Linked DNA regions of Homo sapiens. The protein of the gene in region 1 interacts with the protein of each later gene in a pairwise test. Each region holds a gene or a part of one and is shown on either strand. Other genes may lie near its edges.

The links. Proteins that work in one complex are often made in the same cells at the same time.
Region 2: the proteins of TEX11 (region 1) and CFAP53 interact in a two-hybrid assay, tested with the Homo sapiens proteins (one large-scale study listed by BioGRID and IntAct).

What each region holds. Positions count from the first base shown.
Region 1 is NC_000023.11:70,898,712-70,902,211, forward strand, and holds part of TEX11 (testis-expressed protein 11), read right to left. Parts: intron 1-3,500. UniProt on the Homo sapiens protein: Regulator of crossing-over during meiosis. Involved in initiation and/or maintenance of chromosome synapsis and formation of crossovers.
Region 2 is NC_000018.10:50,252,996-50,256,495, forward strand, and holds part of CFAP53 (cilia- and flagella-associated protein 53), read right to left. Parts: exon of another isoform or gene 2,770-3,500; intron 1-2,769. UniProt on the Homo sapiens protein: Microtubule inner protein (MIP) part of the dynein-decorated doublet microtubules (DMTs) in cilia axoneme, which is required for motile cilia beating.

The sequences.
Region 1 (3,500 bases):
TCTCCTGCCTCAGCCTCCCGAGTAGCTGGGACTACAGGTGCCCGCCAGCACACTCAGCTAATTTTTTGTATTTTTAGTAGAGACGGGGTTTCACAGTGTTAGCCAGGATGGTCTCGATCTCCTGACCTCATGATCCACCAGCCTCGGCCTCCCAAAGTGCTGGGATTACAGGCGTGAGCCACGGCACCCGGCCATAAACTGTACTATTCCCCCTAATAGGTGCATACCAGGTGGCATCAGTGATTATCTCACTGATTATCTGTAAGATTTCTGTACAGGCTGTAAAATAAGTATGCTCATGATTCTAAACTATGTGGCCCTGTCTTGGGATATTTCCTAATAACTCTGTCATTCTTAATCTGAGGATCCCATTGTTGTATTTAAAGGAAAAGATAGTTCAGGGAAGATTACAAATAAAGTCCTTTGAGATTCAATGAAAGCCAATTATCTTGACTGAGTTTTACTACTAAACTTTTTAGTCTAGATCTGCACTCTCTAATATGGTAGCAATATATGGCTACTGAGCACTTAAAATGTGGCTAGTTCAAATTGGGATGTGCTTTAATTGTAAAATACACATGGGTTTCAAAGACTTAGTTTAAAATAAGAAAGTAAAATATCTCAGCAATTTTGTATACTGATTATATGCTGGAACAAAAATGTATGAATATGCTGGGCTATAGCATTAAAATTATTATTATATTAAAAATTAATTTCACCTATTTATTTTTACTTTTTAAACGTGATTACTAGAAAATTTTAAGTTACATTTCTAACTCACATTATATTTCTACTGGACAGGGCTGGTATTGAGTATACATTGGAACTATATTCTGAAGACTTGATGAAACAAATTAGCTAATGTCTACCTCCCTAACAATCATCATAAATATAATAGAAAAAGAAAATATAGAGGCTGGGCACCGTGGCTCACACCTGTAATCCCAGCACCTCCTGTAATCTGGAGGCCGAGGCAAGCAGATCACTTGAGCTCAGGAGTTCAAGACCAGCCTGGGCAACATGGCAAAATCCAGTCTTTACAAAACATACAAATATTAGCCAGGCGTGGTGGTGCATACCTATACGTTCATGCCACTGCACTCCAGCCTGGGTGACAAAGAGAGGTCCTGTATTAAAAAAAAAAAAAAAAAAAAAAAAAGGACCAGGTGTGGTGGCTCATGCCTGTAATCTCAGCATTTTGGGAGGCTGAGGCAGGCAGCTCACCTGAGGTCAGGAGTTTCACCATGTTGGCCAGAACAGCCTGGCCAACATGGTGAAACCCGGTCTCTACTAAAAATATTTTTTTAAAAATAGCCAGGAGTGGTGGTGCACGCCTGTAATCCCAGCTACTTGGGAGGCTGAGGCACGAGAATCACTTAAACTTGGGAGGCAGAGGTTGCAATGAGCCGAGATGGTGCAACTGCACTCCAGCCTGGGCAACAGAGTGAGGCTCTGTCTCAAAACAAACAAAAAATTAATTAATTAATTAGTTAAAATAAAAATACAAAAATTAGCCAAGTGTGATGGTGGGTGCCTGTAATCCCAGCTACTTGGGAGGCTGAGGCAGGAGAATCGCTTGAACCCGGGAGGCGGAGGTTGCAGGGTCACAGTGAACAGAGATCGTGCCACTGCGCTCCAGCCTGGGCTACAGAGGGAGACTCTATCTCAAAAAAAAAAAAAAAAAAAGAAGAAGAAGAAGAAAATTGAAAATTTTCTTGAAACAAATGATAATGGAAACACAGCATACCAAAACGTATGGGATACAGAGTGAAGTTTATCACTATGAGTGCCTACATCAAAAAAGAGGAAAAACTCCGAACAACCTAATGATGCATCTTAAACAACTAGAAAAGCAAAAGCAAACCAAACCCAAAGTTAGTTGAAGAAAAGAAATAATAAAGACCAGAATAGAAATAAACGAAATTAAAATGAAAATATATATATATAAAAGATCAGTGAAGCCCAGTAGTGGTGACTCATGCCTATAATCCCAGCAGTTTGGGAGGCTGAGGTGGGTGGATCACTTGAGGCCAGGAGTTCGAGAGCAGCCTGGCCATCACAGCAAAACCCTGTCTCTACTAAAAATACAGAAATTAGCCTGGCATGCCTGCAGTCATAGCTACTCAGGAGGCTGAAGCACAAGAATTGCTTGCGCCTGGGAGGTGGAGGTTGCAGTGAGCTGAGATTATGCCACTGCACTCCAGCCTGGGCAATGGAGTGAGACTCTGCCTCAAAAAAAGAAAGAAAGAAAAATCTAGAAAAAAGGCCAGTAGGCAGGCAGATCGCTTGAGCTCAGGAGCTCAGGAGACCAGCCTGGGAAACATGGTGAAACCCTGTCTCTACCAAAAATACAAAAATTAGTCAGGAATGGTGGCGCATGCCTATATTCCCTCAGGAAACTGAGGCGGGAGGATCGCTTGAACCTAGGAGGATAGCGCCACTGCACTACAGCCTGGCAATAGAGTGAGACCTTGTCTAAATAAATAAATAAATACTTAAAAAAGACTGAGGGATTTGGGGGGCAAAAAGTTCAAAATGAATAACTAGCGTGGTATGAAAGAAAGAAAAAGCAAATTCAGTCTTAGCTATATTATTATCTAAAGAGAAAAATCATCAGTCCTAAATCTAAAGAGAAAGATTACAGGCGTGCATCACTTAAGGACAGGGATACATTCCAGAAATGTGTAATTTGGTGATTTTTGTCATTGTCCCAACATCATAGAGCAGTGGTCCTCAACCTTCTTGGCACCAGGGACCAGTTTTGTAGAAGACAATTTTTCCACGGATGGTGGGGGGATGGTTTCGGGATGAAACTGTTCTACCTCAGATCAACAGGCATTAGTTAGATTTTCATAAGGAGCATGCAACCTAGATCCCTCGTGTGGGCAGTTCAGGCTCCTGTGAGAATCTAATGCCACTGGCCACTGATCTGACAGGAGGCGGAGCTCAGGCGGTAATGCTTGCTGGCCCAGGGCTCATCTCCTGCTGTGCAGCCAGGTTCCTAACAGGCCAGAGACAGGTAATGGTCCGTGGCCCAGGGGTTGAGGACCCCGTCATAGAGTGTACTTACACAAGATGGTATAGCCTACTACACATCTAGGCTATATGGTATAGCCTATTGCTTCTAGGCTACAAACCTATAACTCATGTTACTGTAGTGAATACTGCAGGCAACTGTAACACAATGATAAGTATTTGTGTATTTAAACATATCTAAACCTAGAAAAGGTAAGTAAAAATATAAAAGATTAAAAATGACTGGGTACGGTGGCTCACAGCTGTAATCCTAGCACTTCGGGACACCGAGGAAGGAGGATCGCTTGAGCCCAGGAGTTCGAAACCAACCTGGGCAACATAGGGAGATCCCGTCTCCACAGAAAAATTAAAAATTATCTGGGCATGGTGGTGCATGCCTGTGATTCCCGGCTACTCAAGATGTTGAGGTGGGAGGATTACTTGGGCCCAGGAGGTAGAAGCTGTGGTGAGCCACGATCACACCA
Region 2 (3,500 bases), on another chromosome or scaffold:
CTAGGTCAGTAAGACCCTGTTTCTTTTTTTTTTTTTTTTGAGACGGAGTCTCGCTCTGTCGCCCAGGCTGGAGTGCAGTGGCACGATCTCGGCTCACTGCAAGCTCTGCCTCCCGGGCTCACGCCATTCCCCGGCCTCAGCCTCCGGAGTAGCTGGGACCACAGGCGCCCACCACCACGCCTGGAGAATTTTTTGTATTTTTAGTGGAGACGGGGTTTCACCGTGTTACCCAGGATGGTCTTGATCTCCTGACCTTGTGATCCACCCGCCTCAGCCTCCCAAAGTGCTGGGATTACAGGCGTGAGCCACTGCGCCCAGCCGTAAGACCCAGTTTCTAAAAAAATAAATTAAATGATAGACAGAATATTTATTTATTCTAATGATAATAATCATTGATAAGAGGAAAACTTTATGTTTGTGAGTGCTTTATAGTTTGCAGGTAGCAGGTATCATCCCCATCTTAGAGTTAAAGCAACAGAGACTCAGGGAGCCTAAGTGTCTTCCCAAGTCACATAACCAGTAGTAGGAATATTATTAGCAAAAGTTATTAAGTGCTTATTATCTGCCAGACACTATTCTAAGCACTTTAACACATATGAACTCTTGTAATCTTCATAATAATCAATATGGCAATGAACATTACTGCAAATTTATTTTTATTATTTTTATTGTCCTTGGTTTACAGATGAGGAAATGGAAGCACACAGCAGTTAAGCATCTTACCTAAGTTTGTCCATTTCATATGTGGTAGAACTGGGACTGAAGAGCTGGCAGTGTGGCCCTGGAGTCTGGATTCTTTGGTGTTTCATTGCATCACCTCTGCCAGCAACTGACAGAGGCAAGACTACCTCTGATCCACAGGCATTCTGACCAAACATCCTAGGGTATTCGTTAATAAAAACACCCCAAAACAAACCCTCGAAATGCCTACCTTAATCTGGGGTCTAATCATTAACCATGTATAATTACAGGGCATTTAAAAAGAAATTTCATAATGTACCAAAAGCACAATCCATAAAAGAAATATTGACAAATTTGATTTCATTAATATTAAAAGCTTTTGCTCTGTAAAAGATCCTTTTAATAGGATAAATAAGACAAGACTGCTGAATGTCTGGGGAAAGAAAAGAAAAAACCATTTAAAAAAAAAAGATAAGCTATAGTCTAGGAAAAAAACCACGTATCGGACAAAGAAGTACTGTCTAGAATACATAAAGAATCCTTAAAACTTAACAGCTAAAAAAAAAAAAAGGCAAAAACTTAGCAGCTAAAACAAGCTAAATTCTAAAAATCTAATTAGAAATGGGCAAAAGATATAAAGAGACATTTCACCAAAGAAAATGTACAGATGGAAAATAAGCACATGAAAAGTTGCTCAACATCACCAGCCATTAGGTAAATGCCAATTAAGCCCATGATGAGATATCACAGCACGCCTATTAGAACAGCTAAAAATAAAAACAAAACAAAACAAAACAATAACGCCACTACCAAAAGGACCAGGATGTGGAAAAACTGGATCTCTCATATACCGCTGGTGGGATTATAAAATGGTACAGCTACTCTAGGAAATAGTTTAGTGTTTATTAAAAAAGAAAAAATTACATTTATGGCTGGGAGTGGTGGCTCACGCCTGTAATCTCAGCACTTTGGGAGGCCAAGGTGGACGGATCACCTAAGGTCGGGAGTTCAAGACCAGCCTGACCAACATGGAGAAACTGCATCTCTACTAAAAATACAAAAAATTAGCCGGGCTTGGTTGGTGCATGCCTGTAATCCAAGCTACTCGGGAGACTGAGGTAGGAGAATCACTTGAACCCAGGAGGCAGAGGCTGCAGTGAGCCGAGATCACGCCATTTCATTCCAGCCTGGGCAACAAGAGTGAAACTCTGTCTCAAACAAAACAAAACAAATTTGCATATGATCCAGCAATAGTATATGATAATTATCCTCAATAAACAAAAACATATGTTCACACAAAAACCTGTACACAAACGTTCCTGTCAGATTTACTTATAATAGAGCAAAACTAGAAACAACCAAAATGTCCTTCAGTAAGTGAACGGTTTAACCAAACTGAGGTACATTCATGCAATGGAATACTACTCAGCAATAAAAAAGACAAACTAACAATACCTCCAACAACTTGGATGGACCTCAAAGGCATTATGTTGAGTGAAAAAGGCCAATCTCTAAAGATCACATATTGTGTGATTCCATTTATATAACATTCTTAAAATGATGAAATTATGGGGATAGAGATTAGTTGTTGCCAGGGTTAGGAATGATGGGGGTGAGAGTAGTGGGCATGACTCTAGAAGAGTAACATGAAGGAGATTTTTGCAGTGATGGAATAGTTCTGTATCTTGATTGTAGGGTGGTTACACAGTCTACAGGTGATAAAATGGCACAGAACTCTACACACACCTTCCATGACTATCAGTTTCCTTGTCTTAATATTGTATTACAATTATGTAAGATATAACCATTGAGGGAAACTAGGTGAAGGGTAAATGGGATCTCTGTACTATCTGTGCACTTTCTGTAAATATATAATTATTTAAAATTAAAAATTAAATACAAAAAAAAACCACTGGTAATTTTTTCTTGTCATTATTATCCATTTCATTTCATTATTATTGCTGAAAATAATTTTGCTGTATAGAAGATAGGGATCACTAAAAATGATCTACTCCAGGTATCAAATATTCTATGAATGCCACTGAATATATCAAAGAGAAATGAATGCATATGCCATCAAAGGACATGTCTATTCATCGTAGATTTATTCATAAGAGTCCCAAACTGAAAATAACTGAAATGACTGTCACCAGGAGAAGAAATAAATTGTGGTATATTTATACAATGGAATACAAAAAAAAAAAGAGGAAAATTTTCATTCTGCTTTATATTAATATACATATTAAAGCCTCAACTATATTTTCAGTAATAGGGTCTAATAACGCATCCTTACTCAAAAGTATGTCTGAGGATCTATGCTGAGGAGTTGGCAGTGCTTCATTCAAAACACTAAAAACAATTTGTTTTCAAATTATATTACTATAGGATACATTCGTTTCTTTAAGATTTTTAACAATTCATCTAACTAGCAAAAACTCAGTCATACAAGTGAAATCTGTAAAATGTTGCTAAATCCATAAATTTTAAAAGCACAACCACTTACGAACCATTTTGTTTTCTTAATATGTTAAGATAAATTTACTAGGGAGTAGAAAATATATGAATGGTCCATTGAGAGTCACTTGGCTAATATACCATTTTCCACCCACAGCATCTTTTCCCCCCAGCAACCAGTAGCAAAGATGTCCAAATCCCACTGAGGACAGGGTATGAGTGCATGCTTTACACAGGCTTGAAAATCCAAGTCTAATCCTCTTTTGGTTACCTCAAGCTTAAGACCTAGACAAATCCCTACCTGTAGAACTCAGTTATCCATCTACAAGCCAAGGAGGGTGGCAAGTCGCGTCTGGCCCTGTGCG